Linked DNA regions of Homo sapiens. The protein of the gene in region 1 interacts with the protein of each later gene in a biochemical or structural test. Each region holds a gene or a part of one and is shown in the gene's direction. Other genes may lie near its edges.

Region 1 (7,027 bases):
AATAGGTGTTGTACAAAAATAGCCACTTAAGAGTGTAAATATTTGTTTGAATTAGTTTCAAAGGGTACCTTTGTAAAAGGAGAGAGAAAAGATAGAAGTGCAACATAGTTTATTTCATTACAAACTGGTTTGTACATCTTTCAAGTTCCTGTAATTTCAGAGAAGTGTTGATGTTAAGTTGGAAGTTAAGAATAGTATATTATTGCTTTTATTTAAAATAAATGTCAACTACTAATTTGTGATTCATATAAAACTTTATTTTGAATTGTATTGTATTTAATTTGAACATGTGGGGAGTAATACAACGTACTGTTAGCATTTTGAATATTAATTTTCGGAGTTACAGTTATCTTAAAGTCTTACAAATATATGAGCAGTTTTGAAAAAGAATTTTTGTAATTATGGTAGTAATTATTATACATCTGCCAACATTTATTAGCTGACTTGTACTATATGAAAATTCATTATGTGAAAAAATAGAAACTCATTATTTGTATTCTGGCTTGTGGGTTTAAATTTATTGCAATTGCTTCTTAAAAATAGAAATGAAAAGACCAATGAGAAGGCAAAATAAGATAATAACTGATAATTATTTTATCTAGAAATCTGACTTTTAAAATTTTTTAGAAAATTAATATTTTTATTTTGTCAACATGTGAAAGCCCATAAATAATTACCTATTCCATAAGAATGTTTTAGACTGTTTTGAAAGCTTCCATGTAATTGATATTTTTCTAGTTAATTTTTCATTACTCCATTATGAACAGAACTATGAATAGACTGACCCAGCTGGAAAGACTGGATTTGGGAAGTAACGAATTCACGGAAGTGGTAAGTTCTCATCAGTCTCACTTTCCCTAAGTTCTTATATTTAATGAAGAACAAAATATGAAAATTAATGTATTTCTCTTACAAATTGGATAAAGGTTTACTTTTTTTTCTTAGTTACAAGATATGAAATTTCTTAGCCAGAACTTTCCAGACAGATAGAAAAATTAACCAGACAGATGAACTTCTGACCACAAGTGAGCATAAAATGTAAAATCAATGAGAGGTCCATGGAAGAGATACTAAACAATTTTTAGCATAGGAAGCAGAAAATTTGAGTGATTATAAGTGGGAAACATCAGTCTGGAATGCAGCAGGTAAAAGTAGTTCTGAATCAGAGAGAGCTCCATGGGGTATTGCTTGTTAACTTATTCAGTAATAAGATACTTCTCTATAATGTTACTTAATAGCTAAGGGGAAAATCATTGAGTGAAACAACTGTTATTTTTGAAGTGGTAATGAGAACCTTTTTGTTTGTGCTTTGTATGCCAAGTGCGCTATGAAGCTGACTCTAAAAGGAAAGGAGTAGTGTTTAAGTAGCTTTTGTCTTTAGTGAGTTTTCCAAAAGAACTCAGAAAATAAGCTAGATTTTTTTTTTTTTGAAGAGGAACTCATCCAGCTGAGTATCATTATTAAACTTTTAAATTAGTTTACAAGTTTGTTGTTTAAAAGTGTGGTAGCTCTCAAATGATGGTTTTAAGCCTAGGAATTTCTCAAAACTGCTTGCTATAGTATTGCCCTGTGGGTATTATATTAATATTATAAATTTCAGCTGAGGTTTGAGGAGGAACATGGTACTTTGGAGTACCTCATTCTCTAAAATACATGCTGTGCTTCCCAAATTATTTATCTGTTACGTCCTTTCTCAATATTTGTTCTGTATGAATCCGTTTCCGTATTAACTATTTCAAAAATCTCGTTCATTTTAAGAATCCAACAAGCTTTCAAAATCGTCATTAGTTTTTGTACCATTTTGGTCTTCCAACATTATACACTTTTTAAAACTTACAGTAGAATTTAACAGTAATGCACAAAAGGAAATTTCTTTTAATCCAAGTTACATCTGGGATTCTTATCTATATTTATATGTTAACAGTAAATCTGATTGGCATGCCTTTTATATATGACTGTTAACTATGGTCATTAGATGTGATAGTACTCTGTGCCATCACATGATCATTGATTGCAGATGGCTTTGTGAGGTGATAGAAATAACTTTGAAGAGGGCAGACTTGAAGGGACAATGCCCAGGAGCAAATTTTGCCTGGATATGAAGGTCTGCCACAACACTTGGATTAATTTTGATGTCCTCAACACCATATTATAAAGAATTTTCTACCATGTAATTAGAAGTTTTTACTAGAGGTTTAAATTACAGTATATTTGTATCATGTAGTTATGACTTTGTCTATTTACCTTTCCCTGATTATGGACATTTAGGATGCACGTTGTCTTTTATCTCCTTCTTAATGAATGTCACCAGGGAACATTTGTAATTTTTCTGTTTTCTAAAAGCTGTATCTTCTTACTGATAATGCATGAGTGCATATTTTTATTGTATACTTCTAAGCAGTGAGTCCTATTTTTTATTTCTTTACAAATTATATAAAAACTTGCCCCTGTTGTGTAATCCAAAGCTTAAATGTGTTTTTTGTAATCTACTGCTATGGCATGTCTCTTTGATTTCTCCATTAATAATTTTCTATAATAATTTTACTGTAGTAACTATAATGCAGTAGAAAGGCTTACATCCTGGCTCTTCTTTTTTATTTTTCCTTCTCCCTGCTCCTTTTATTTAATGATTTGAAACTAAAGGTTATTAGAAATTCCCAGGGCTTCTTTTGCCAGATAAAGACATTCATAAAAATTAATTGAATTACTGCTATCCCCTACCCTAATCCCAACAGCCTGAAGTACTTGAGCAACTAAGTGGATTGAAAGAGTTTTGGATGGATGCTAATAGACTGACTTTTATTCCAGGGGTATGTATATGAGATTTTAAATGGCATCACTTATTTCTGGCTCTCCTTTGCAGTTTTGTGAATTGTACCTTTTATAATTACTTTTAATTAATAAAAAAATTGAATTATTCTTTATTAAACAGAAGCAAATTACTTTTTTTCATGAGCACATTCTTGATTATAATCTAAGAATTCTCATAATAAACATTTGTATGTCTCCTTTTAATACTGTTGAGTGTGTCCTTTCCAATGGTATCACTTGAACTTACGTCCCAATTTGCTTTGCCCAAGGAATTGGTAAACTAGGATATTTTTCATGAACTTTCTGAATTTTTTTTTTTTTTTTTTTTGAGACAGAGTCTCGCTCTGTTGCCCAGGCTGGAGTGCAGTGGTGCGATCTCGGCTCACTGCGAGCTCCGCCTCCTGGGTTCACACCATTCTCCTGCCTCAGCCTCCTGAGTAGCTGGGACTACAGGTGACCACCACCATGCCCAGCTAATTTTTTTTTATTTTTTAGTGGAGACGGGATTTCACCGTGTTAGCCAGGATGGTCTCGATCTCCTGACCTCATTATCCGCCTGCCTCGGCCTACCAAAGTGCTGGGATTACAGGCGTGAGCCACCGCGCCCAGCCGAACTTTCTGTTTTAACAACTGACAAATTGTTTACTCCCATAAAAAAAACCACAAGAATCCCCATATATGCTATTTCCTTAGGAGGTAATGGATACCTGAATTCCCAAAGAATATGTCCTTTGTCACTTCTGCTATGCTACAATTAGTAGAACATCTTAGCTATATTACTGAATACATTTCTAATGGCATTTAAAAAACTACCTGGGAGTCTTCTTTCTTGTATTAGCATTTAATTTTGAATTAAAACTTGGTATCAAGTTTATTCCCTAAACTTTTTACAAATTACTAATGTTAATAGAGTCATTAGATTTTCTTTTTTTACTTATAGTTTATTGGTAGTTTGAAACAGCTCACATATTTGGATGTTTCTAAAAATAATATTGAAATGGTTGAAGAAGGAATTTCAACATGTGAAAACCTTCAAGACCTCCTATTATCAAGCAATTCACTTCAGCAGCTTCCTGAGACTATTGGTTTGTATTGCTTTCAAATTCATGTAATTTTTATTAAAATAAATTCGAGACTTCCACATAATCTCAAATTTCACTTGTTATGAGGTAGTTATACTTCGTTACCACAGGAACGGATTTTATTTGAATTTTTCCTGGTGTGATCAGTTGTACAGTTTGCTCCTTTGTTGACATTACTGTTTTTTATTTACTCTAAGGTAATCTCATTTTTATTTCTAATATATTTAAATTCTTTAAAATAAGTTAACTTATGCAAATTTGGCTTAACTGTTAGCTTTTATTGTCATAGCTTTTATTTTGGTAACTTTTTTCAGTCCTGTTTCATTACAGACACTCAGACAAGAAAACAGATCAGTTGAACAGATCATGAGAGATCTATGATTGAGTCTGTGTAGTTGCTTGTTCAATGATATGTCAATGGAATTGAATTATTTTGATGAAAGGACCCAAAACTTCAATCTTGACATCTTTTTGATGTTTTAATTTAAAAACCAAAAATATTTCTCAGTTAAATCACGTAGTGGTTTTAGCTAAAACTACATTTTTGTAAGTTTGTTACGATTCTACTCTTAGTCAACACTTTTTAAACTTAAAAAATATTTTACTGTTTTAGTATTTAGTATATATGGAATAGTTTTTTATATACCTGTTATGAACTACCTTCATACTACCATTTCTTTAGTCTATTAATTTAACAAGTTTGTATTGTCTGTCTTTTCTGTGCCATGACATTGTTTTTAGAAGCAGAGCTACAACAGTGAACAACGAAGACAAAAAAGTTCCTACTATCAGTATATTTTAGTGGGAGTTAATAAACAAATGTACACTATGTTAAATAGTGATGTGGATGAAGATTGAAAGGACAGGATGAGGGAATAGAACATTGGGATTGGGAGTGGTATCTCTTTTAGATACGTTTGTTAGGAAAGTTGTTTCTAATTCTTGTCAGATGTAGTATGTCTCACACTGACTGTTGGTGGACTTGCTTCTATTTTAAGCTGAAAAATTGTATGTTGTTTCTTCCCTCATTAGGTTCGTTGAAGAATATAACAACGCTTAAAATAGATGAAAACCAGTTAATGTATCTGCCAGACTCTATAGGAGGGTAAGTTTTTTGTGAATGTATACACCCTCGAAGATTTTACTTTCAGTTCAGCATGCCATACATATTTTCAGGTATTTGCATAAATGACCTAAAGATTTTGTAAACATTTAAGTAATTAGTATACAGGTTGAGTGTGTTTATGATAGACAAACCTACTTATTGGTGAAGTTTAGCTTTGTGAAATGGTTTCACTAGGTTTTCAAAGTCAAGTTCAAATGTTTATATGTTCTGAAATTTTGGATTATATATAGGAAATCTTTAACAAATAATATATATTTCTTTTTTTAAATTAAAGGTTAATATCAGTAGAAGAACTGGATTGTAGTTTCAATGAAGTTGAAGCTTTGCCTTCATCTATTGGGCAGCTTACTAACTTAAGAACTTTTGCTGCTGATCATAATTACTTACAGCAGTTGCCCCCAGAGGTAATGTATTTTAGATTTGTTTAGATTTTTGTCTTTTCATTTTTTTCTGATTATCTTCATTATAGCTATTTAGTGTGGCTTCATTTATTTTCTTTCTAAAATAGTTTTCAAGTTATTTATTTTCTGAATAATTAGCTATGTTAATTTAGAAGAGGTTCTTAAATGCTTTCTTATGTACATAAAAATTAATTAAAAAGAAAGTCTAGTCATTATTTCTTCTATAAATGTGAAGTATTTTTCATAACTTTCAAAAATGATGTTTTTTATATGTTGATCAACCTGTAGGCCAAATTTTTTGATACTCAGTTTATATTTCTCTTTCAGATTGGAAGCTGGAAAAATATAACTGTGCTGTTTCTCCATTCCAATAAACTTGAGACACTTCCAGAGGAAATGGGTGATATGCAAAAATTAAAAGTCATTAATTTAAGTGATAATAGGTTCGTAATACTATATTCATCAGTTGGTTTATAGGAGACATTGGTTAGATGAAATTAAGTTTCATATGATATATAATAGAATAGCTAGTGCTTGTTGCTCTTTAAATATACATAGTAAGTTCTCAGTGTTATTGATAGGCTCTTGGAAAGTGTGACTTTCAGTGAAACAACATACAATGAAATCACTTCTTTCGTTCATCAGTGTTATAAGAAAATGACATTATTTGAGAACCTGCCATACACAGTTTTGCTAAAAGTTTTGGTTTCCAAGAACCTATCAATAACTTAAATGAGGACTTAACTGTATATATTTTTTTCTTTAAATACAAAGAGTGGTCTTATTTTATCTGATGTTAATTTATCATACGGTGGTTGTTACTGTTCATTTTGGGTTGACTTAGCTATATAGTCTTTATTCTCTTCTTACAGTTACCTTTTATTTCTGAAGTCACATCTTCACCTGAATATTGCTATTTAACAAAACAATTTTGGAATGTATCTAGTCTGTTGCTAATATTTTCCTAGGCAGAGATCTGGTTTCAACAAAGCCAAGGTGCAGAGTAAATTGATCACTAGGGTTGTAAATTGGAACAATGTTTAAGTTAAAAACAGAATGTCCATACTTTTTCGTGAGGTAAACATACTAATGATGATTAAACAGCATTTGTAGAGTGTTTTCACTTTTTGCTTTCATAGTGTCTTGTGAAGTCTTCAAAACAGCTCTATGAAATAGTATAATAGTATTCCCATTTTATGTAGGAGGGTTTTAAGACTCAGATTTAAGGTGACTCACGTAGCTTGTAAGGTAGAGCTTTAATTTAAACTCAATTTTCTGACTAATTATGATATTCTAACTTCTGTTTTATTTAAAAGAACCACTGCTTTCTTAAGTCACGTTTCAGCCTTTAATTCCTACGGCCCACAGTGGGTTGCTGAAAGAAAGGCACGGAAGACTAGTTAGGTATAAGATAGCAAGGCTGAAGTAGATAATTCTCTCTTAAATAAGATATTTTCATTTAGTATTCTAATGAGTATTTATAGTTGACCCTTGTATTTGTGGGTTCTGCAAGTGTGGATTCAAACAACTTCAGATCAGAAATATTTGGAAAAAAATTGTGTCAGTACTGAACGTGTACCAACTTTCCCATTGTTATTCCCTAAACA
Region 2 (7,027 bases), on another chromosome or scaffold:
ATATATAATATATATATAGTATATAATATATATTATACATAATATATATAATATATATATAATATATAATATATATTATACATAATATATATAATATATATATAATATATAATATATATTATACATAATATATATTATATATATAACATATATTATACATAATATATATTATATATATAACATATATTATACATAATATATAATATATAATATATATTATGTATAATATATAATATATATTATACATAATATATATAATATATTATATATATTATACATAATATATAATATATATTATATAATATATATAATATATATTATACATATTATGTATAATATATATAACATATATTATACATAATATGTATATAACATACATAATATATATTATACATAATATATATAATATATAATATATATTATACATAATATATATAATATATAATATATAATATATATTATACATATATATAATAATATATATATACTATATATAATATATATATGAGAGTGTGCACATATATGTACAAATGTGTATGTGTATGGTCCCTTCATAACCATGAGTTCAGCATCTGCAGATTCAACCAACTGCAGATTGAAAATAATCGGGAAAAAATGAAAATAACAATACGACAGTAAAAACTAATACAAATTGTATTTATTTTTATTTATTTTTTGAGACAGAGTCTTGCTCTGTCGCCCAGGCTAGAGTGCAGTGGCGCAATCTCGGCTCACTGCAACCTCTGCCTCCTGGGTTCAAGCAATTCTCTGCCTCAGCCTCCTGAGTAGCTGGGACTACAGGTGCATGCCACCACACCCAGCTAATTTTTGTATTTTTAGTAGAGATGGGGTTTCACTATGTTGCCCAGGCTGGTCTCAAACTCCTGGCCTCAAACGAATCACCCACCTTGACCTCCTAAAGTGCTGGGATTACAGGCGTGAGCCATCGTGCTGGGCCCAAATTTTAAAATACAGTATAACAAATATTTGTATAGCATTTATATTATTAGGTATTATAAGTAATCTAGAGATTATTTAAAGTATACAGGATGACGTGAATTTAAGTTACATGGAAATACTACACCCTTTTATGTCAGGGACTTGAACATCTAAGGGTTTTTAGTTAGGGGGAGCCGGTCCTAGAACCAATCCCCTGTAAATGCCAAGGGATGACTATATATATATATATATATATACATACATTTCTGTATTACTATTATTATTTTTGCCCTCATTTTACCCTATTTCACAATTTCTCTTCGGTTGTTACATGTTTGGAATTTATTCTACAAAATTGTGAGGTTTTTTTCTTTTGCAGTATTCCTTATGATATGTTTTAGTCAAACTGCAGAAGCTAAATATATAGTTTTCCAGTGAAATAAGTAGTCTTTTGACTCTATGGTCTGTTTCTACTTGCATGATCTTTGTGTGTTACTGCTTTCTGGTTCTTATGTATGAGTGGGTTTTCTCTTTTTGTAGCTAGGGTATCTCACCAAGAGTTTGATGTTAAAATAGACAAATGTCAAAAATATGTCATATTTTGTATCCTTTTATTATTACTGTTTTTCTTTGTGTGGCTTTTGACTCATTAATCTTTGCTCTGGCTTTATCTTACCCCACTTTAGCTTTTTTATGTGCTTTAGAAATGCACCAAGTATGGCAAGTTGACTGACTTTGCCTATGATTGTTTTGTATTTGAACAGGAGCTAGACTAAAACTACTGGTAAAACAAAGAATCCAACATAAAGTGATTTAATGACATGGGAGAAATTTGAAAAAATCTGGTATGATCTATGAAACTGGAGTTTTGTGTGAAAAATACTGAAAATCTGGTATCATCTGTGGAAACCGATACAGATACTATGTCTACTTCCTGAGCTTTTGCCAGTGCAGGCTGGCATAGAGCATGTAAAGATGATTATATTAAATCTATTTTTGGCTTGAATTGTTCACGCATTTCTTCCTTTTATTATTTTTTTATTTTTTTCTTTTTCAGATTTACAGCCAGTTACTTACTCAGAACCTGCATTTTGGTGTTCGATAGCATATTATGAATTAAATCAGAGGGTTGGAGAAACCTTCCATGCATCACAGCCCTCACTCACTGTAGATGGCTTTACAGACCCATCAAATTCAGAGAGGTTCTGCTTAGGTTTACTCTCCAATGTTAACCGAAATGCCACGGTAGAAATGACAAGAAGGCATATAGGTATGTTTTATTTTCCTTGTTGTGAAAAATAAATGCTGTATACTCATAATGTAGGCATTGCATGGTGTGCCACATCAAGAGCTTGTGTGCAGTAAAACCAGCTTTCTCTCTGGTGGTTTAAGTGCCGACACATTTAAGTGCACAGGCTTCACTGCTTCTAATAGATCCTGGTGATGCTTCAGCTGCAAACTCTTCAACTTTTATTTGGCACCCTTGGTACTGGAAAGTTCTTCAATAAATATGTGTTAAGATAAGTTTAATTTGCTGAGTCTCTACCAGTCATAAAATTGCCATGTTCAGATTTGGGGGTTAATACTTTTTTATAAATCATGTTTTTTTGTTTTGTTTTGTTTTTGTTTTTTTTCAGTTTCTTTATATAGCTCCCAGGTTTTTTCCCCCTTTGGTGAGTTTATATATTAAATGAAATCTGCTTGCTGTTCATCTGAAATGAGATATCTAAAACAAGAACTGCATTTAATATAGTTCAAAATATAATTCAGGGACATCTCAAAATGTGGTCTGGGGACTTCTGGTAGTCCCAGAAACCCTTTCAGCTAGTTTGTGAGGTCAAAGCTATTTTCATAGTAGTACTGAGATGCTGTTTGCCATTTCTACTCTCATACTCTCATGACTGTACAGTGGAGTATTCCAGAGCCTACATGCATATGATTTTGCAAGAGATGAAATGTAGATTTGATAATGAGACTCCAATTCTGTTACACTAGACATGAATGTTGAAATGTTGCCACTCTATTTTTTTTTTTTTTTTTTTTTGCTTTGGAAATATAGTTGTTTTTCATAGACAAAAATGGTGAAATGTTGCCACTCTATTTTTTTTTTTTTTGCTTTGGAAATACAGTTGTTTTTTATAAACATTGTTAATATGTAATGGATTTGATTTTTAAATGAATTTTTTAAATCTCAGTTTTTATATCTAATATGGTCATTTTCCATAATATTCACATAAACAAAAGCTCTTTGGGGTCCTCAGTATTTCCTTAACGATGAAGTGAAAAAGTGTGAGAACCATTCATAATTGAACATCATTCTCATCACCTTAAAGTAACTTCTTTTAACAGTAGTTTGCTTCTGTTTTTTTTCTAATTAACCATTACCTCCTGTGAGAAGTAATGCTGGTTATCAAAGTGTGATTTTGATACTGCAAAATGATAGTGACTAGAAGATCTATTACTTGGTTCCAAGTGGAAGTTCTCAAATCTTGCTTGATGTATAAATTTGGATAATCTTATTAAGATACCCAGTGTCGCTGTAGGTGCTTTAACTAAAATAGTTTTTTGTTTTTGTGACTTAATTGGGGTTCTGCAAAAAAATTTAATGGGTTTTCTCTGCCTTATTCTCTTCTCCCTCCAAAGTTTTAGATTGCTGTCGTTATTGGATTTTTTTAAATTTTTTATTTCTAGTTTTATAGGTGATATTGATCAGGGAATATAGCCTGAAAAATCTCTACTTTTTGGACTTAGTGTTTTCCCAATGACCACGTGCATGACTGTTTTACAGATATTCCATAGTCTTAACAGAACCACCGTACCAGGTTCTGTATTAAATCTGGAGTGTTAGTTGTTTGATTAGTTTTCTTTTGCTGTGTAACAAATTACCACAAACTCAGTGGCCTAAAACATCAGTTTTTTACCTCACGGTTTCTGTGGGTCAGGAGTCCAGACATGGGTTAGGCGGTCTTTTCAGGGTTTAACAAGGCCAAAATTGAGGTATCAGCTGGCTTGTGTTCTTATCTGGAGCTTGAGGTCCTCTTCTAAACCCACATGGTTGTGGCAGAATTCAGCTCCTAGATGCCTCCTGAATTCCTTGTCACATGGTGCCATCCATCTTCAAAGTCAGCAATGGAGAATGTCTCTTGTGTTGAATACCTTTCATGCTTTGAATCACTTAGCCTATGACAGTCTAGTCCCTTTTAAAGGATTGCCTGATTAAGGTTAACTGATTTGCTGCCTTAATTACATCTGAAAAAATCCTTAACAGCAGCACCTAGTGTTTGATTAACAGAGAATGTATGTGCACCTCAGGGCTGAGACTCTTAGGTGTCATGTTAGAACTCTGCTTCTCACAATTTTTTTTTTAATTCTTATATCTCATATTATTTTGCATCTGTGATCTCTCAGATTCTGAAAGAAGTATATTAAAAATCTCCCAGTAGAATTTTTTCTCACCTAATCATGCTTATACATCTAGAGGTTGGGTTTCCACCATAATATATAGTTTTTAAAATGGCAAATGACTTTTTGATGTTTTTACATCTTTTTTCTTAACATTAAGTGGGATCTCTAAGAAACTACAGTTGTAATGAAGATATATTTCTCCAAACATTAGTGAATTCCTTCAAAATTAACTCAATCTTTTACTTATCTTAATATATATCATTTGTATGAAACTATTTTACTATGTGTACTTTTTCTACATTGTTTAAATACTTTCAGTCAGTACACATGTATTTTAAAATCAATAAAATTATTGTTAGAAAATACTTGGGAGAAATATACAGTAGTATATTTAAAGTTAGACTTCAGAAAGACATTATCTGTGAAAAAGATCCTGGAAATACCTTATATCATTTTAGAATTTTTCCAAGAAAATGCTTCCAAAGTCACACTGAAATAGTAAATGTTACAAAACTAATCTCATTTGTATTTTGTTTCAGGAAGAGGAGTGCGCTTATACTACATAGGTGGGGAAGTTTTTGCTGAGTGCCTAAGTGATAGTGCAATCTTTGTGCAGAGCCCCAATTGTAATCAGAGATATGGCTGGCACCCTGCAACAGTGTGTAAAATTCCACCAGGTATGGATTCAATAATGTACATAAACCTATCATGTCAACTTGCTTAGTTTTTCTTGTTGCTAATTTTAGGAATCAGTAGATGATTGCATGCTCATATTCTAAAACTTGTAACCCTTTTAAAATTACTTTTTAATAATGATACTCTTTTGACAATTTCTTTTACCTTTTTTAATCATAGGCTGTAATCTGAAGATCTTCAACAACCAGGAATTTGCTGCTCTTCTGGCTCAGTCTGTTAATCAGGGTTTTGAAGCCGTCTATCAGCTAACTAGAATGTGCACCATAAGAATGAGTTTTGTGAAAGGGTGGGGAGCAGAATACCGGTATGAAATACATATTTGGTTCTTAAATTTCCACAGTGTAATTATGTTTCATTGCATTCTTGCATATTCTGGAGTTCATTTGTATCTATTTTCAATGAGGTTATAGAGTCAGCTGATCTTTATGTAAAATAAAGTTGGAGGCCTCCAAATTCAAAACTGTTGCAAATTACTGAGCTGCCATTATGGAAGATATTAAAACATGCACAGGCGTGCATTTTAACGTAATTCAGAGTGTTAAATATCATAAAAGGGGTGTATATGAAGGGTTATGTCAGTTTATGGAAGGAGAGATGTTTGCACACGGTGCTCAAGGAAAACTTGATGGCACATGATCTAGTTGTAAAAGGTGCATTGGATTTCAATAGTCATAAATGGGGTGGGCAGAGTTGGGAAGTGATAATCTTGACAATAGCATAGCAATTCAGTTTGGAGAATAGAAAAATAAGGCTGGACAATTAAATTGAGACAAACTAGATGTAGGTTAAGAGGAGGAACTTCATTCAGAAGTAGAAGGAATACTTGCTAATGTGCCAGGCACTGTGCTGTTTTAAGTGTAGTATCTAAAAATTATTATTTCTGTTGTCAATTCATTCTTTGTAAGGTTGAAATATATGAAATTGCCATCGTTGCAGGTAACACATGGTTCAAACTAATACATATTTGGAAATAGACATAGAAAGCTGATAATTTGCCCAAGGTTACATTATAAGTGGTTGAGATGGGACTGGAAGATAGTTCTCCTGGACTCTTTACCTCTTTTATAAGGATAGTAGTAACAATTATGTTTAAGTTTTACAAAAACTAATTTGTCATCAGTGGATAAGATAGTCTAGATTATTGATGAATTAAACAATAGATTGGATTTCACATCAAAGAGAGAGAAGACTTCTTGACCATATTTAAGAGTAGGAATTAAGTAAAATACTTAGTCTTTCTTCAATTCGTATTGCTTACTCCATATGCCTGCTTAAGAAATATTCATGTAATATAGTGATTGTATTCCTGCTTCTTCCAGCAATTTAGTCCCTTCCAAATTTATTTGTTTTGGACTTGCTTGTCTATCTTAAGTTTTGTCAGAAATCTGATTTGAGATTGTGCAATGTGAGGTCTACTTGTTGAATACATTTAAAAATATATGGTATATATTTGTATCAGAGAATGAAGACTTGTCACTATTTTTTTCTGAGTTATATTGGTAGAATAATTCATTTTGTGATTTTGCTGTAGTTCTGTTTTGATTATTACCCTTTTGAGATGTTGTTACCTGTTAAGAATGCTGAATGCCGTTTTTTAAAATTAGACTTGACCTGAGTTGATAGCAAAATTAGATTTAAATTATATTGTCTAATAAGATTTCAGGTCAGACTTTTTTTTGTTCTTCAGAAGGTTAGAATAATGCAAAATATGGTAGGAATTTAGTGGAAGTAAGAGTGAATTACAGAGAGAATTCCATGTGTATCTATAGATCTGCTAAGAACAGTTTTACTTGGTAAAGATACTGCCCTTCTTCATTCACTGTGGACTCTGCTGTTCTTTAACTCACAGATAAAGTAAAATCTGTAATTACAGAAGCAGTAATATGCAGTATGTTTTTATGAGTATTGGGAGTCAGGTACATCTGACTTTGGAAAATCAAGTAGTTTCCTGTAACATTTACAAATCAAAATGGCAAATATCCATCTA
Region 3 (7,027 bases), on another chromosome or scaffold:
TACATAACCTTTACCCCCAAAAAAGTTTCCAAGTGCACCTTGGTAATTGCTCCCTCCAATCCCTACTCCCTCCCTGTAACTCCCTCTGTCCCCAGGCAATGACTGATCCCTGCTTTCTGTCACTAGATTAAGATTAGTGTGCCTTTTACTTTAGTTTAAATTACCTTATAATTTTACACGAACAGAATCATGCCTGGCTTCTTTCACGCAGCATCATTAATTTAGATTCATTCATAGCGTTGCATGTATCAGTAGTTGATCCTTTTTTGTTACTGAGTTGTATTTCTTTGTATGGATATGTTATGGCTCATTCATCTGTTAATACATGTGGAGTAGTTTTCAATTTGGGGCTATTACATTCATGCACAAGTCTTTGGACATAGGCTTTTATTTCTCTTGGGTAAATACTTTGAAGTGGAATGGTGGATCATATGGTAGGCTTATGGTTTTTTAGCTTTTTAAGAAACTTCCAAATGTTTGAGGGATGAATATCCCAATTACCCAGATTTGATCATTACACATTGTATGCTTGTATCAAAATATCGCAAGTACCCTATAAATATGTATAGCTACTGTGTATCCCCCAAAATAAAATATTTTAGAAAGGAACTTCCAAGCTGTTTTCCAAAATAGTTGTACCATTTTACATTTGCACCAGCAGTGGAAGGGAGTTCCAGTTGTTCCACATCCTTGCCAATACATGGCATGATCAGGCTTTTTAATTGTAGCCATTCTAATAAGTATGTAGTCCTATCTCATTGTAGTTTTAATTTGTGCTTCTCTAATGATCAACATTGTCAAGCATCTTTTCATATGCTTGTTGTCTTCATATCTTTCTGGGTAGTGTCTGTTCAAATCATGTATCTCTTTTTTAAAAGATTGAATTGTTGGCTGGGCGCAGTGGCTCACGCCTGTAATCCCAGTACTTTGGGAGGCCGAGGCAGGCGGATCACGAGGTCAGGAGTTCGAGACCATCCTGGTTAACACATGAAACCCCGTCTCTACTAAAAATACGAAAAATTAGCCGGGCGCGGTGCCAGGCGCCTGTAGTCCCAGTTGCTCGGGAGGCTGAGGCAGGAGAATGGCGTGACCCCAGGAGGTGGAGCTTGCAGTAAGCCAAGGTTGTGCCACTGCACTCCAGCCTGGGCGACAGAGCGAGACTCCATCTCAAAAAAAAAAAAAAAAAAAAAAAAAAAAAAAAAAAAAAAAAAGAAGATTGAATTGTTAATATTGAGTTTTCAGAGTTCTAGAAACAGGTCTATTATCAAATATACGCTTTGCAAATATTTTCTCTTAGTTAGTGCTTGCCTTTTTATTCCTTTAACAGTGTCTTTCAAAGACCAGAGGCTTAAATCTTGATGCGGTCTGATTTTTTTTTTATTATTATTAAGTGCTTTTTGGTGTGGTATCTGAGAAATCATTGTCTATCCCAAAAAGTCACAAAGATTTTCTCCTGTTTTCTTCTAGACATTTTAGAGTTTAAGTTTCACTTCAGTTTGTTTTTGTATAGGGTTACAATGTGTAGTTTGAAGATTATCTTTTTTACATATCCAGTTGTTACATCACCATTTGTTGAAGACTGTCCTTGCTCCACTAAATTGTCTTTGGACCTTTGTTGAAGCCAGTCGTCCATATATATGTAACTATTTCTGGACTCTGTTAGGTTCCATTGATCCGTTTGTCAGTCCTTGTGCCATTACCATACTGCCTTGATTATTGTAGCTCCCTTGTTTTTAAAAGTTTAATTAATATCCAAGTGATTCATGTATGATTAATATTACTACTAAGGCAAGAGGGCCACCCACTTCTATCACCTAGATGGAGCTTACCTCCACAGCCCCATTCTCCCCCGCTGCTGGCATGAGCTTTTCTCCAAGGCCTTCTCTTGCAGAGGAGGCTATGATGTCCAGCTGGCCCTTTTTTGGGAGTTTTGTCAAACACCGAAGAGCAAATACGGCCACTTCCCTAATCTGTGGGCACCCAGTGGCTTTGCAGGAGAAGGAGAACAGCTGAATAATTCTCTATTCCCACTCACCACTTCCCACTCTCCCTTTTACTCCTGTTCAACCTCCAGCTCACCCTACTTATCCAGGGCTGGGTTTGGGGAGTATCTGCTGTGATAGAGAATAATAACGCTAATTTGTGGGTGTTTATGAAGCACTTTCAAATGGAAACCAAGCTTCAGGAGGTCGGGGGGCAGAATACCCCATTTTATAGATGAGAAAACTGAGTGTCCTAGGAAGCTCATGAGCTGCCCAGTGTCTCCCAGCTAGGAGAGTAGAACCCTCCTTTACCCCAGGTCTTATGGCTCCACATCCGCCAGTCCTCCTTTTATACCTCAGGGACGAGTCCCAGGCTGTCTTCTCGATCTGCCTGGTAATTACTGTTTTTCAGCTGTAGGGCTTCCTTGTTCTGGGGCCCCAAGGGAGGAAGGTAATTACATCCTTCAAGATGCCCTTAGTCAGCAGCTCCAGGTCAGTTCCTGTGACCAAGCCCAGCTATGACCTTTGTCTGTCCTTTCCCCTTCCCAGGCCAGTGGCTTGGAGAGTGTGATTGGATCCCTCTGTTTCTCTCTTTGGTTGGTGCTGTTGGTGGCATCTGGCCAGCCCTTCCTTCACAGAGTGCCCATGAATTCTCTGTATTCAGGCAAATGGGTGCCCTCGGTCATAAGAAGGCACAGAGGGAAAGCTTGCAAATGTCTCACTGCCAGCCCTGCCAGCTATTAGAAAAATTATGGCACTGACTGGCAGGGTCCTAGGATGGGCCTCCTTGAAGAAAAAGCAGTCCTGCCTCTTAATAGGGTACCTGTGACTCATGAGCATCCATCTCATCTGCTCCCCACTTCTATCCCTGCTACCCGCAATCTGTTGGTCACACGTAGCCAGAGTTCCACAGGGCCTGTCTCTTTCACACGTATGCACAGCCCACTTACACATCTCAGAGGCTACATACTGCTTTTAGAAAACAGGAGAAGCCTTTATCATGGCCTTTGGGGCCCTGCAGAGTACCCCTGCCTGCCTCCCCGGCCTCGTCTCAAGCCAGCTCTCTCTCATGATCCCCTCTCCAGTCCTTCTGGCCTTCATTCTGTTCTTCCGACCTCACCATGTTTTCCACTTTCCACAGGGCCTTTGTGTGTGCCTTTCCCTCTGCTTGTACTGCCCTTCTCCCGCACCCCTTTGCCTGGTTAGTTCTTACTTACCCTTTAGGCCTTCAGGTCAACCATCACCTCCTCTGAGATGCCCTGTCCAGTCCTTCAGCAAAGTGGGGTGCCATGGTCATACACTCTTGGGGTTCCTTGTTATTTTCGTTCAGGACACTTTCATTGTGTGTAATTGTAGGTTTCTGTGATGATGATGATGATGATGATGATGATGATGATGATGATGATTTGAAACGGAGTCTTGCTCTGTCGCCCAGGCTGGAGTGCAGTGGCACAATCTTGGCTCACTGCAACCTCCCCCTCCCAGGTTCAAGTGATTCTCCTGCCTCAGCCTCCTGAGTAGCTGGGATTACAGGCGCCCGCCACCATGCCTGGCTGATTTTTGTACTTTTAGTAGAGACAGGGTTTCACCATGTTGGCCAGGCTGGTTTTGAACTCCTGGCCTCAAGCGATCCACCCGCCTCGGCCTCCCAAAGTGGTTTTGGTGATTATTTGATTAATGCCGGTCTTGCCCAGTGGAATGGAGGGTCCCTGCAGACAGGGACCACTTTGCTGGCCTTTTCTCATAGTGAAGTCTCTTTCCTTACCACTGTATCCTTAGTGTCACACATAATAGGTGCTCATTAAATATGTGTTAAATAAGGGACTCCATTTTAGTGGCACCTCCTCACCTGTCTAATACCAGACACTATCTGAAGTTTTACGTCCCTCCAGAAGCCTTCTGCCTCCCAGCCTTGCCTGTAGCTGACAATGCTTTTGCCGCCCCAAGCTCCCCAGTCCTTTCCTGTAAGCCACCCAGACTCTCATCATCCAGATCACCTGGGGATTTCACAAAGGGAAAGATTCTGATTTAGTAGGTTGGGGTAGGCGCTGAGAATGTACATTTTTAACAAACTTCCCTGAACCTCTGCTGCTGGTCAGGGACCACACTTTGGCCTGGCTTGAGAGGTAAGGGCACCGGGTCATAGCTGCTTGGCCAAATCACCATAGAAGACATGGTTCACACAGGGTCATGGCACTGGCCAATTGTAAGTAGGCACAGTAGTGTGCCCCTGCAGTCCCAGCTACTTGGGAAGCTGAGCTGGGAGGATCACTTGAGCCTGGGAGGCGGAGGTTGCAGTGAGCCGAGATCATGCCACTGCACTCCAGCCTGAGTGACAGAGCAACACCCTGTATCAAAAGTAAAAAAAAAAAAAAAAAAAAAAAAATCCCTTTAATTTCCGTCTTTCACTCCCTGCTCACCACAAATAACTAAAAAAGAAAGGAGGGGCCAGGCACGGTGGTTCACGCCTGAAATCCCAGCACTTTGGGAGGCTGAGGCGGGCAGATCACGAGGTTAGGAGATCGAGACCATCCTGGCTCACACAGTGAAACCACGTCTCTACTAAAAATACAAAAACAAAATTAGCTGGGCGTAGTGGCGGGTGCCTGTGGTCCCAGCTACTCAGGAGGCTGAGGCGGGAGAATGGCATGAACCCGGGAGGCAGAGCTTGCAGTGAGCCGAGATGGCGCCACTACACTCCAGCCTGGGCAACAGAGCGAGACTCCGTCTCAGAAAAAAAAAAAAAAAAAAAAAAAAAAAAAGAGGAGGAAAGGCAAGTTTTCTTTTTTTCCCCTGACTTTCTAATGTGCAAGGGAAGACCTGAGTGAATGAGGGGAGACAGCCTTTGTACTTTGTCACTCTTCTTTGGATCACTGTAGTCCTCATATCTGTGCCTAAAGAACTCTCATTGTCTTCCCCAGCCCTGTCCCCTCTCCACACCTCTGGGCTGAGTAGGAAGCCGATGAGTGGCTCCTGGACCTTTTCCAAGCACAACTGAAGTGACTGAAGTGCGGGCCCTTCCCATGGAATGCCACTCCCTGAAGAGCAGTACAAAGTTGGGGAACCCACCGGGGACTGGTGGGTGAGGCCCGCTCTGCCAGCTGGGAGTCCTCACGGGGCCTTTGTTGTCTTCTCCTGAGATCCCTCCCAGCACTCTCAGCTAGCAGTGCTCTGATCTCCTGGACCTCTGGATCTGGGAGAAATGAGGGGAGAGAGAGCTTTCCAAGTGTCTGAAAGTAGGAGGCCGGACTCTGCAGAAAGCAAGCACAATCCACATTTCCCTCTCTTTCTGCCCCTCCCCGTCCTGGCAGGTCCCTGGATGGCCGGTTGCAGGTGTCCCATCGGAAGGGGCTCCCTCATGTCATCTACTGCCGCCTGTGGCGATGGCCAGACCTGCACAGCCACCACGAGCTACGGGCCATGGAGCTGTGTGAGTTCGCCTTCAATATGAAGAAGGACGAGGTCTGCGTGAATCCCTACCACTACCAGAGAGTAGAGACACCAGGTATGCTGCCTGGCCTGCCTGTGGGGACAGCAGGTGCCAGGGGTCATCACCTCTCCCCGGCTCCCCATCCCCCCGAGGGTCTGCGGTGCACTTGGGGGTGCGGGGACTTTGGTGCTGGTCTGGCATCGACACTGAGCCACCTCTGCTCTGTCTCCCCCGGACAGTTCTACCTCCTGTGTTGGTGCCACGCCACACAGAGATCCCGGCCGAGTTCCCCCCACTGGACGACTACAGCCATTCCATCCCCGAAAACACTAACTTCCCCGCAGGCATCGAGCCCCAGAGCAATATTCCAGGTAGGCACGTGGGCGGCACAGGCTGGCCTGGGAGGCAGGGGCAGCGGTCAGCCCCGACATCAGTCCTGTGGCCCCAATCTCTGCCCCCTGGCCGTCCCCCGCTCACCCCCTCTTTGCGCACAGCTCTGGCCTGAGGGCCCCTGACTCAGAACCGCATCCCTGTTGGGAGAGGACCCATGACCTCAGCTCCCCCCTCACTAGTGATGCTTTTCTTGGCATAGAGGAGCAGCGTGACCCTTCCGCCCGGCCTTGGTGCAGTCATTTATTTTGGAAGCGGAAATAGCAACACTGTTTCTCTCACCGCCCTTGAGGCCCGGACTGGTGTTCAGTCCCAATAGACTGGGGGTCTGCAGAGGCGGGGAGTGAGCTGAGGGCCAGGCAGCAAGTGCGGAGAGCTGGCTCTGTAAATTCGCCTGGGCATCAGGCCTCGGTGAGGGGCTCCAACCTGGGTGGGAATTGAAGTGACTTTGAGTTTTCACTCTGCAGGGAGAAATGGGCTTTGCCGTCAAAGACTGCAAATGTTTTTAGAAGCCCCTCATTTACATGCAAATAACGTGTGAATCACCAGCACTTTCAGACTCCAGGAAAGCTGTGCTTGGCAGCACTTGGGCTAGTCACTTTTGCTTGCTGGGGCAGTAATCCTGCTGCGTTCCTCTTAGAGCATTCTAATTTGGACGTGACGTTCATCCTGGGTTAGTTTACTGGGCTGAGATTGGCTACAGGCCTGTGTGCTTGGGTCAGAGTGTTAAGGAGGAGACCCACTGTCCAACCTTCTCAGATCCTTTGCGGGTAGCCCTGGCGTCCCGCGGGTAAGTCAACTACTCCCTGTTCAAAGAGCAAATCTTGGAGGGCTTCAGTCAGGGTCTGGGGGAGGTTTCAGAGAAATAGATCACACTGTCTTTGCCGTCATTGAACTTGCAACCTAACTGCTGAGTGAGGACACGTCCCTTAGAGACAACAAATAATAACACCTGGTCTGCACAGAAGAAGATAGTAGGGACCAAAGGGTGGGTCTGAGCCTGCAGATCTTCAGAGGACAGAAAGGGGTGAGGCGGAGGCAAGTCTGGACGCCTCCCTGGAGGGGGTGGGGCTTAACCCTCACCTTGAAGGACCAGGATAAGTTAGCCTGGCAGAGGCTCTAGGAGTACACATTTCAGACTTGGGAGTTGATCCGGTCCTGCGTGAGCAAAGGCAGTTATGATCCAAGCGGGAGTCAGAGGTGGACAGGGGCGAGGACAACAGAA
Region 4 (7,027 bases), on another chromosome or scaffold:
TTACTGAAGAGTAAAGACAGCGTTTCCCCATGACATTGGGACAGGAGTTAGCTCTTCTAAGTCTGCTGTCTTCATCTGCTTATGTAGATGGTAACTTACAGGCCTTAGCTTAGCACTTATGTGTCAGCCACTGTAATAAGCATTTATATGCACTATCTGTATTCTTCAAAAATGACCTTGTGAAGTAGGTATTATTATCCCCATTTTATGGGTGAGGAACTTGAGGCTCAAGGAAGTTAAGTAGCTTTCTCACAGTCACTCAGCTAGGAAGTGGCCAGATTCCAAGTCTAGGTGGGTCGTGGGAGCTGGGCCATCGACAGGGCAAAGGTGGGCTGGTTTCAGAGAAAAGCTAAAAGGACTGGTTCTTCTCCCCGCCAGGATTCCCCATTGAAAGCTGTGCAGATGTTGTGGGTTAATCTGATCATGGACACTTTTGCTTCATTGGCCCTGGCCACAGAGCCCCCTACGGAATCTCTGTTGAAGCGGCGCCCCTATGGCCGAAATAAGCCTCTGATCTCACGCACTATGATGAAGAACATCTTGGGCCATGCATTCTATCAGCTCATTGTCATCTTTATCCTTGTCTTTGCGGGTGAGCCACTTTGGGGGTGGGTAGCAGCTGGGGTCCTGGTTGGAGGTGGGGGCAGAGAAAGAAGGTAGCGTGAGAGCAAGTGCACAGGTCAGGAATAAGCGCAGCTTCACCTCCCAGTGCTTGCTGTGCTCCCGCTACACGGTGCATTATGCTACTATATGTACTCATACAGTACTCTTGAGTACAGTGTGTACTGTGTGTACTCAAGAATTTCACAAGGGAGGCTTTATTATTTCTTTCTTTCTTTTTTTTTTTTTTTTTTTCTTTTTGGAGACAGAGTCTCGCTCTGTCACCCAGGCTGGAGTGCAGTGGCGCTAACTCGGGTCACTGCAACGTCTGCCTCCCAGGTTCAAGTGATTTTCCTGCGTCAGCCTCCCAAATAGCTGGGATTACAGGCATGCGCCACCACACCCGGCTACTTTTTGTATTTTTAGTAGAGATGGGGTTTCATCATGTTGGCCAGGCTGGGCTCGATCTCCTGACCTTGTGATCTGCCCACCTCAGCCCCCCAGAGTGCTGGGATTACAGGCATGAGCCACCACGCCTGGCTTATTTCTTTTTTTACAGATTCAAAAAATTAACCTCAGGTCCCATAATGAGTACATAGTTGCAGTAAAATTCAAACCTATGATTGCCTGACTCCAGCGCACATAGTCTTACTACCATGCTGCACTACATGAGAGCAAGTATCAATGCAGCAAACTGAGAGAGAAGGTAAAATAAGTCAAGACCAGAACTAACATTTAAAATGTTTAATAACTAGTACAACAAAAAATTAGCCAGGCATGGTGGTGCACGCCTGTAGTCCCAGCTATTTGGGAGGCTGAGATGGAAGGATCACTTGAGCAGGAAGGTCCAGGCTGCAGTGAGCCATGATCATGCCACTGCGCTCCAGCCTGGGTGACAGAGTGAGACCCTGTGTCAAAAAAATAAATAACTAGTGCAGCTCAGATATTGATTAATTAGAATGGACACCAGCCATAAGCAAGCAGTATATCTGTACCAACACATTCTTACTCTTAGTTCAGACCACACTTAACCTCCAGTGCTTCTCCTCTCCCCACTAGGTGAGAAATTCTTTGATATTGATAGTGGGAGGAAGGCACCTCTACATTCACCACCCAGCCAGCACTATACCATTGTTTTTAACACCTTCGTGCTGATGCAGCTCTTCAATGAAATCAACTCCCGAAAGATCCATGGAGAGAAGAACGTCTTTTCAGGCATCTACCGCAACATTATCTTCTGCTCTGTAGTCTTGGGCACATTCATCTGCCAGGTGAGATTCTATCTGCAGTTGGGGCAGGAGATCTGGAATGATAAAGGGCAGAAGCTGGGAGCCAGGGTTCCCTACATACCTAGGAAAAGGAATGAAGGAATTACGGGGACTGGAGCTGTAAGTTGAACACTTTGGGATTCCCAATCTGCTTTCTTTTGCATATTGCTCTAGAATTGGAGCCCATTGTGTCAAGAGCTCCAGTGCAGGGCAGCATGTTGACTGGAAATAAAATAATACTTCTAAAATCCTTTCATGATCTTTCTAAATACACAGAAATTTCACAGAATGACCAAAAGAAGTATTCTCTTCTAGTCCCTTTCTATGGCTCCTGTCAGCCTATATGAAATGTGCATGCACATCTAGTATAGACTCTCCCTGTCCCTGCCCTTTGTTCTGAAGGGCTTATGATAAAAAGTGTTGTGCAACTCAAAGAAAGAGAAGTAATGGGATTTGTACATGTATATTACATAGTCAGCCCAGCTTGGACTCCTCCAATATGAGACTATGAGCTGATCATGTCCCATCCCTCAGCAGGGCACCTCCCTTTATTTGTCCCCATCCTCAATTCCTTTTTTTTTTTTTTTTTAATTTTAAAAATACAGATGGGGTCTCACTCTGTTGCTCAGGCTGGTCTCAAACTCCTGGCCTCAAGCAATCCTCCCGCCTCCCAAAGTGTTATTACGCCTGCCATTTTTTCTTTTTGTTTTTTTTTTTTTCGTTTGAGACAGATATCTCTCTCTCTCTCTCTCTCTCTCTCTCTCTCTCTCTCTCCCTCTGCCTCTCTCTCTCTCTCTCTTTTCCCCCCTCCCCCAGGGGGAGTGCAGCCTCAGTCTCCCAGGTTCAGGCAATCCTCCCACCTCATCCTCAGTTCCTAACTCCATCACTGTACCTTCTCCTTGTCACTAACTGGCTTTAGTCACAAGAAGCCACCAGCTCCCCTAACTCCTCCAGATTGTCTGTTAATCATAGTCACAGTAACTATGTCTGTCTCCCCATCAGAGTGCTCTTAAAGGCTGTTTTTGTCTGTCTCCCCTTTGAGATTTCTTCTTTTCCCTTCCCCTGCAAGCAAATCGGGACTTGTACCCAAGGATCCTGAGGAGTGGGATGATGTGGCTTTGGGGGCCTTGGCTGGAGGGCCAGCTGCCTGTTAGTCATTTCCTTGATGGTGGGCTGCCCCTTTCTCTGTTCTAGATTTTCATCGTGGAATTTGGGGGTAAACCCTTCAGTTGTACAAGCCTCAGCCTGTCTCAGTGGCTGTGGTGTCTCTTCATTGGGATTGGAGAACTTCTGTGGGGCCAGGTGAGTACCGGCACACCCTCCTGGTGCATTCTCACAGCCTGCAGAACTCCCCTCCTCTACATGAGATGGAACAAGCAACGGTGGAGACCCCCCAGCTCCTCATCTTCATCTTCTCCTCTTCCCTCCCCACCCCCACTCAAGTTTTCAAGTTCTTGCCATCTCATAGGATCTCAAGGTGGAATGATCACTTCAGAGGTTTCAGAATTCTTCTCTAACTAAGCCTGGAGGTAGAAAAATCCCTTAGCTTGGCTGGGCGCAGTGGCTCACACCTGTAATCCCAGCACTTTGGGAGGCCGAGGCAGGCAGATCACGAGGTCAGGAAATCAAGACCGTCCTGGCTAACATGGTGAAACCCCGTCTCTACTAAAAATACAAAAAATTAGCTGGGCATGGTGGCAGGTGCCTGTAGTCCCAGCTACTCGGGAGGCTGAGGCAGGAGAATGGCGTGAACCTGGGAGGTGGAGCTTGCAGTGAGCCGAGATTGCGCCACTGCACTCCAGCCTGGGCGACAGAGCAAGACTCAGTGTCAAAAAGAAAAAAAAAAGAAAAATCCCTTAGCTTCTCTGAGACAGAAACCAAACTTTTCAATGGAATTTTGCTACAAAAAAAAAATATATAATAAGGGTCTTAGAAGTAGAAGAGTTTACAAGACACATGTCTTTATTCTCATGAGGCAGCAACCTGGCTATGGGCTGTCGAGCTGACATAATTCAGGGTTTCCAGCCTCTTCTCTTTCTTGCCATGGCTTTATCTGGGTGGAATTCTTAACTCTTACCTGAGATAAATTCAGATTTACAAGATCTCTAGAGTAGCAGTATGGCCTGTGGTTCAGAGCATGGACTCTGGGAATGACTGCCTGGGTTTGAATCCAGCTCTCTGTTTTTTTTTTTTTTTTTTTTTTTTTCTGAGACAGAGTCTTGCTCTGTCACCCAGGCTGGAGTGCAGTTGTGTGATCTCGGCTCACTGCAAACTCTGCCTCCTGGGTTCAAGCAATTTCTCCTGCCTCAGCCTCCCAAGTAGCTGGGATTACAGGCAACCACCACCGCACCTGGCTAATTTTTGTATTTTTACTAGAGACGGAGTTTCACCTTGTTGGCTAGGCTGGTCTGGAACTCCTGACCTCGTGATCTGCCTGCCTTGGCCTCCCAAAGTGCTGGGATTACAGGTGTGAGCCACCGCACCTGGCCCAGCTCTTGTTGCCCAGGCTGGAGTGCAATGGTGCAATCTTGGCTCACTGCAACCTCCACCCTCCAGGTTCAAGCAATTCTCCTGCCTCAGCCTCCCAAGTAGCTGGGATTACAGGCACCCACCACCGCGCCCAGCTAATTTTTTGTATTTTTAGTAGAGACAGGGTTTCACCATGTTGGCTAGGCTGGTCTCAAACTCCTGATCTCAGGTGATCCACCCGCCATGGCCTCCGAAAGTGCTAGGATTACAGGCCTGAGCCACCGTGCCCAGCCTCAGCTCTCCTTTTTATAAGCTGAATCATCTTGGGCAAGTTACATAACCAATCTGTGTCTCAGTGTCTTCAGCTTAGGAAAACAAGGTCATTGTTAATTAGTGAATCAGTTACTATACAGTAATGAATAATGTCTTATTCCTTATAAATAATCAAATTTTAAACTATTACGATTATAATAGTATCATTAAGTCTAATAGTTTCACTTCTTCCTTAATACCACTTTACAAACCTCCCTCATCCTCAGCTCTGGCCTGGGCTATACCTCTCTTTACAGACCCCAGGTCTCTGCAGATAATCCCTTAGTGTCCAGCCACCCAGGTAATGGACACTTTGCCCTAACTGGCCTCAAAGAGCCATTTCTGGAGCTGCAGGCCTTCTCCCCTAAACCTGCTAGTTATTTATTTCATACCTAGATGCCTCCCTGAATAATTTCTTTTTCTTTTCTTTTCTTTTCTTTTTTTTTTTTTTTTTTTTTTAAGAGATGGGGGTCTCAGGCCAGGCGCAGTGGCTCACACCTATAATCCCAACACTTTGGGAGGCTGAGTCGAGCAGATCACCTGAGGTCAGGAGTTCGAGACCAGCCTGGCCAACATGGTGAAACCCTGTCTCTACTAAAAATACAAAAAAAAAAAAAAAAAATTGGCCGGGCATGGTGACACATGCCTGTAATCCCAGCTACTTGGGAGGCTGAAGCAGAATTGCTTGAACCCGGGAGGCGGAGTGCAATGAGCTGAGATCACGGCACTGCACTCCAGCCTGGATGACAAGAGTGAGACTCTATGTCGAAAAACAAAAAATAAAGAGATTGGGGTCTCACTATGTTGCCAGGCTGATCTCAAAGTCCTGGGCTCAAGCAATCCTCCTGCCTCGGCCTCCCGAAGTGCTGGGATTACAGGCATGAACCGCTGCACCCAGCCCTCCCTAATTAATGTCTGACCCAATTCCCTCCACCCTGTTCTGTTTGGTGAAGATTTCTTTTTTTTTTTTTTTACCAATGGGTTCCTAAAGCAGTTTTATGCTTTGGTAAAGCTTGGTTGTTAAACCTGTTGTTTGAAACTCTGTTCTGGCTCTTGCCTCACATGTGGCCATGTGGCCTTGCTGCCAGACAGCAGCCTTCCTTCTGTATCACAACAGCTTTTTCCACATTCAGAGGCAGAGCTCTGGCATTCTTCCCATTTCAAAACCCTTGACTCCATATCAGATTGCCCATACAGTCCCTCTTCCCCACATGAGCCCTGGCTACTCCTTATCTTGTCCGGAAAGAACTGACTGACAGGTGCTGAGCTCACCGGGAAATTTATTTCAAATTTCAAACCCTATGTACTGCTCCTTGTCTTCTGATAATACTCATGTGACCCCTCTTCTATGGACTGTCCCATCCACTTCCTCACCTCAAGCCCAAGAAAACTTTTGGTATCCTTTCACAAGAGTTTGTAACACAGAAACTACTTTGCATGTGGCAACTAAGAAAGGGGTCATTCATTTCCAATACCCTTCTCAACCCCTTGCCTATACATAGGCAATATCACCATCTTCTCCCCAAACTCTTTTCCCCCAGGTCCTGGTCTCTGTTTCTTCCTACTGCGTACCATGCTGTATAGTTCTGTTAACCTTAAAAGACAGATTGCAAAATGGAACAGAAGAAATGAGACAGAAAGAGGAAAATGAAGTATATGACCAGGCAGATGGCTGGTCAATTACTAGAATAGAAGCTCTCTTTTGTGTGTGTCCATAAATACAGAAAACCTTCCTAAAAGCCTGACCGCTGGTGGGCACTTGGAGAATGCTTGCCTGGATGGATTGGTGCTTCTGCCCACTGCTCTTCCAGTGGGAAGGGTGGTAGGGCAAAGAGTAACCTGCCCAAGGGCCTGGCTCATGTAAGTTGACTGACAGCTCTTCTCACGCTGATTCTGACGTCTTCCTCTTCGCTGCGCTTGTTTTCAGTTCATCTCCGCAATACCTACCCGATCCCTGAAGTTCCTGAAGGAGGCTGGGCATGGCACCACCAAAGAGGAGATCACCAAGGATGCCGAGGGACTGGATGAGATTGACCATGCTGAGATGGAGCTGCGCCGAGGCCAGATCCTCTGGTTCCGGGGCCTGAACCGTATCCAGACTCAGGTACTCTGATAGTGGTCTGTCCTTCCCTTGGGAGAAGCAGCTTCCCATCTTGGAAGGTGTTGGGAGGGTAGCAGTTCTTGTCGGCCAGCATCTCTTCCCTTCCAAAGGCTCACTACTGATGGGCAGCCCTAGATCCTCAGCTTCAGGACAGACACGCAAAAGGATCTGTGTGGGGTCCTCTGAGAGGAGAGGAGTCAAATGACCTAGACCATGGGACACTATTAGCATAGTCCTTTAGCTCTGGGTTGACCCTAAAGCCCAGCCTGCCACCCTC

What was found.
Region 2: the proteins of ERBIN (region 1) and SMAD2 form a complex in vitro, tested with the Homo sapiens proteins (2 studies listed by BioGRID).
Region 3: the proteins of ERBIN (region 1) and SMAD3 form a complex in vitro, tested with the Homo sapiens proteins (2 studies listed by BioGRID).
Region 4: the proteins of ERBIN (region 1) and ATP2B4 interact in a test that uses a peptide from one of them, tested with the Homo sapiens proteins (2 studies listed by BioGRID and IntAct).

The regions. Positions count from the first base shown.
Region 1 is NC_000005.10:66,020,555-66,027,581, forward strand, and holds part of ERBIN (erbin), read left to right. Parts: intron 1-767; coding exon 768-831; intron 832-2,735; coding exon 2,736-2,810; intron 2,811-3,751; coding exon 3,752-3,896; intron 3,897-4,925; coding exon 4,926-4,998; intron 4,999-5,293; coding exon 5,294-5,423; intron 5,424-5,747; coding exon 5,748-5,863; intron 5,864-7,027. UniProt on the Homo sapiens protein: Acts as an adapter for the receptor ERBB2, in epithelia. By binding the unphosphorylated 'Tyr-1248' of receptor ERBB2, it may contribute to stabilize this unphosphorylated state.
Region 2 is NC_000018.10:47,843,657-47,850,683, reverse strand, and holds part of SMAD2 (mothers against decapentaplegic homolog 2), read left to right. Parts: intron 1-1,996; coding exon 1,997-2,209; intron 2,210-4,883; coding exon 4,884-5,021; intron 5,022-5,199; coding exon 5,200-5,344; intron 5,345-7,027. UniProt on the Homo sapiens protein: Receptor-regulated SMAD (R-SMAD) that is an intracellular signal transducer and transcriptional modulator activated by TGF-beta (transforming growth factor) and activin type 1 receptor kinases.
Region 3 is NC_000015.10:67,159,602-67,166,628, forward strand, and holds part of SMAD3 (mothers against decapentaplegic homolog 3), read left to right. Parts: intron 1-5,293; coding exon 5,294-5,487; intron 5,488-5,651; coding exon 5,652-5,783; intron 5,784-6,559; exon of another isoform or gene 6,560-6,592; intron 6,593-6,929; exon of another isoform or gene 6,930-7,027. UniProt on the Homo sapiens protein: Receptor-regulated SMAD (R-SMAD) that is an intracellular signal transducer and transcriptional modulator activated by TGF-beta (transforming growth factor) and activin type 1 receptor kinases.
Region 4 is NC_000001.11:203,720,819-203,727,845, forward strand, and holds part of ATP2B4 (plasma membrane calcium-transporting ATPase 4), read left to right. Parts: intron 1-378; coding exon 379-592; intron 593-1,659; coding exon 1,660-1,871; intron 1,872-3,062; coding exon 3,063-3,170; intron 3,171-6,576; coding exon 6,577-6,753; intron 6,754-7,027. UniProt on the Homo sapiens protein: Calcium/calmodulin-regulated and magnesium-dependent enzyme that catalyzes the hydrolysis of ATP coupled with the transport of calcium out of the cell. By regulating sperm cell calcium homeostasis, may play a role in sperm motility.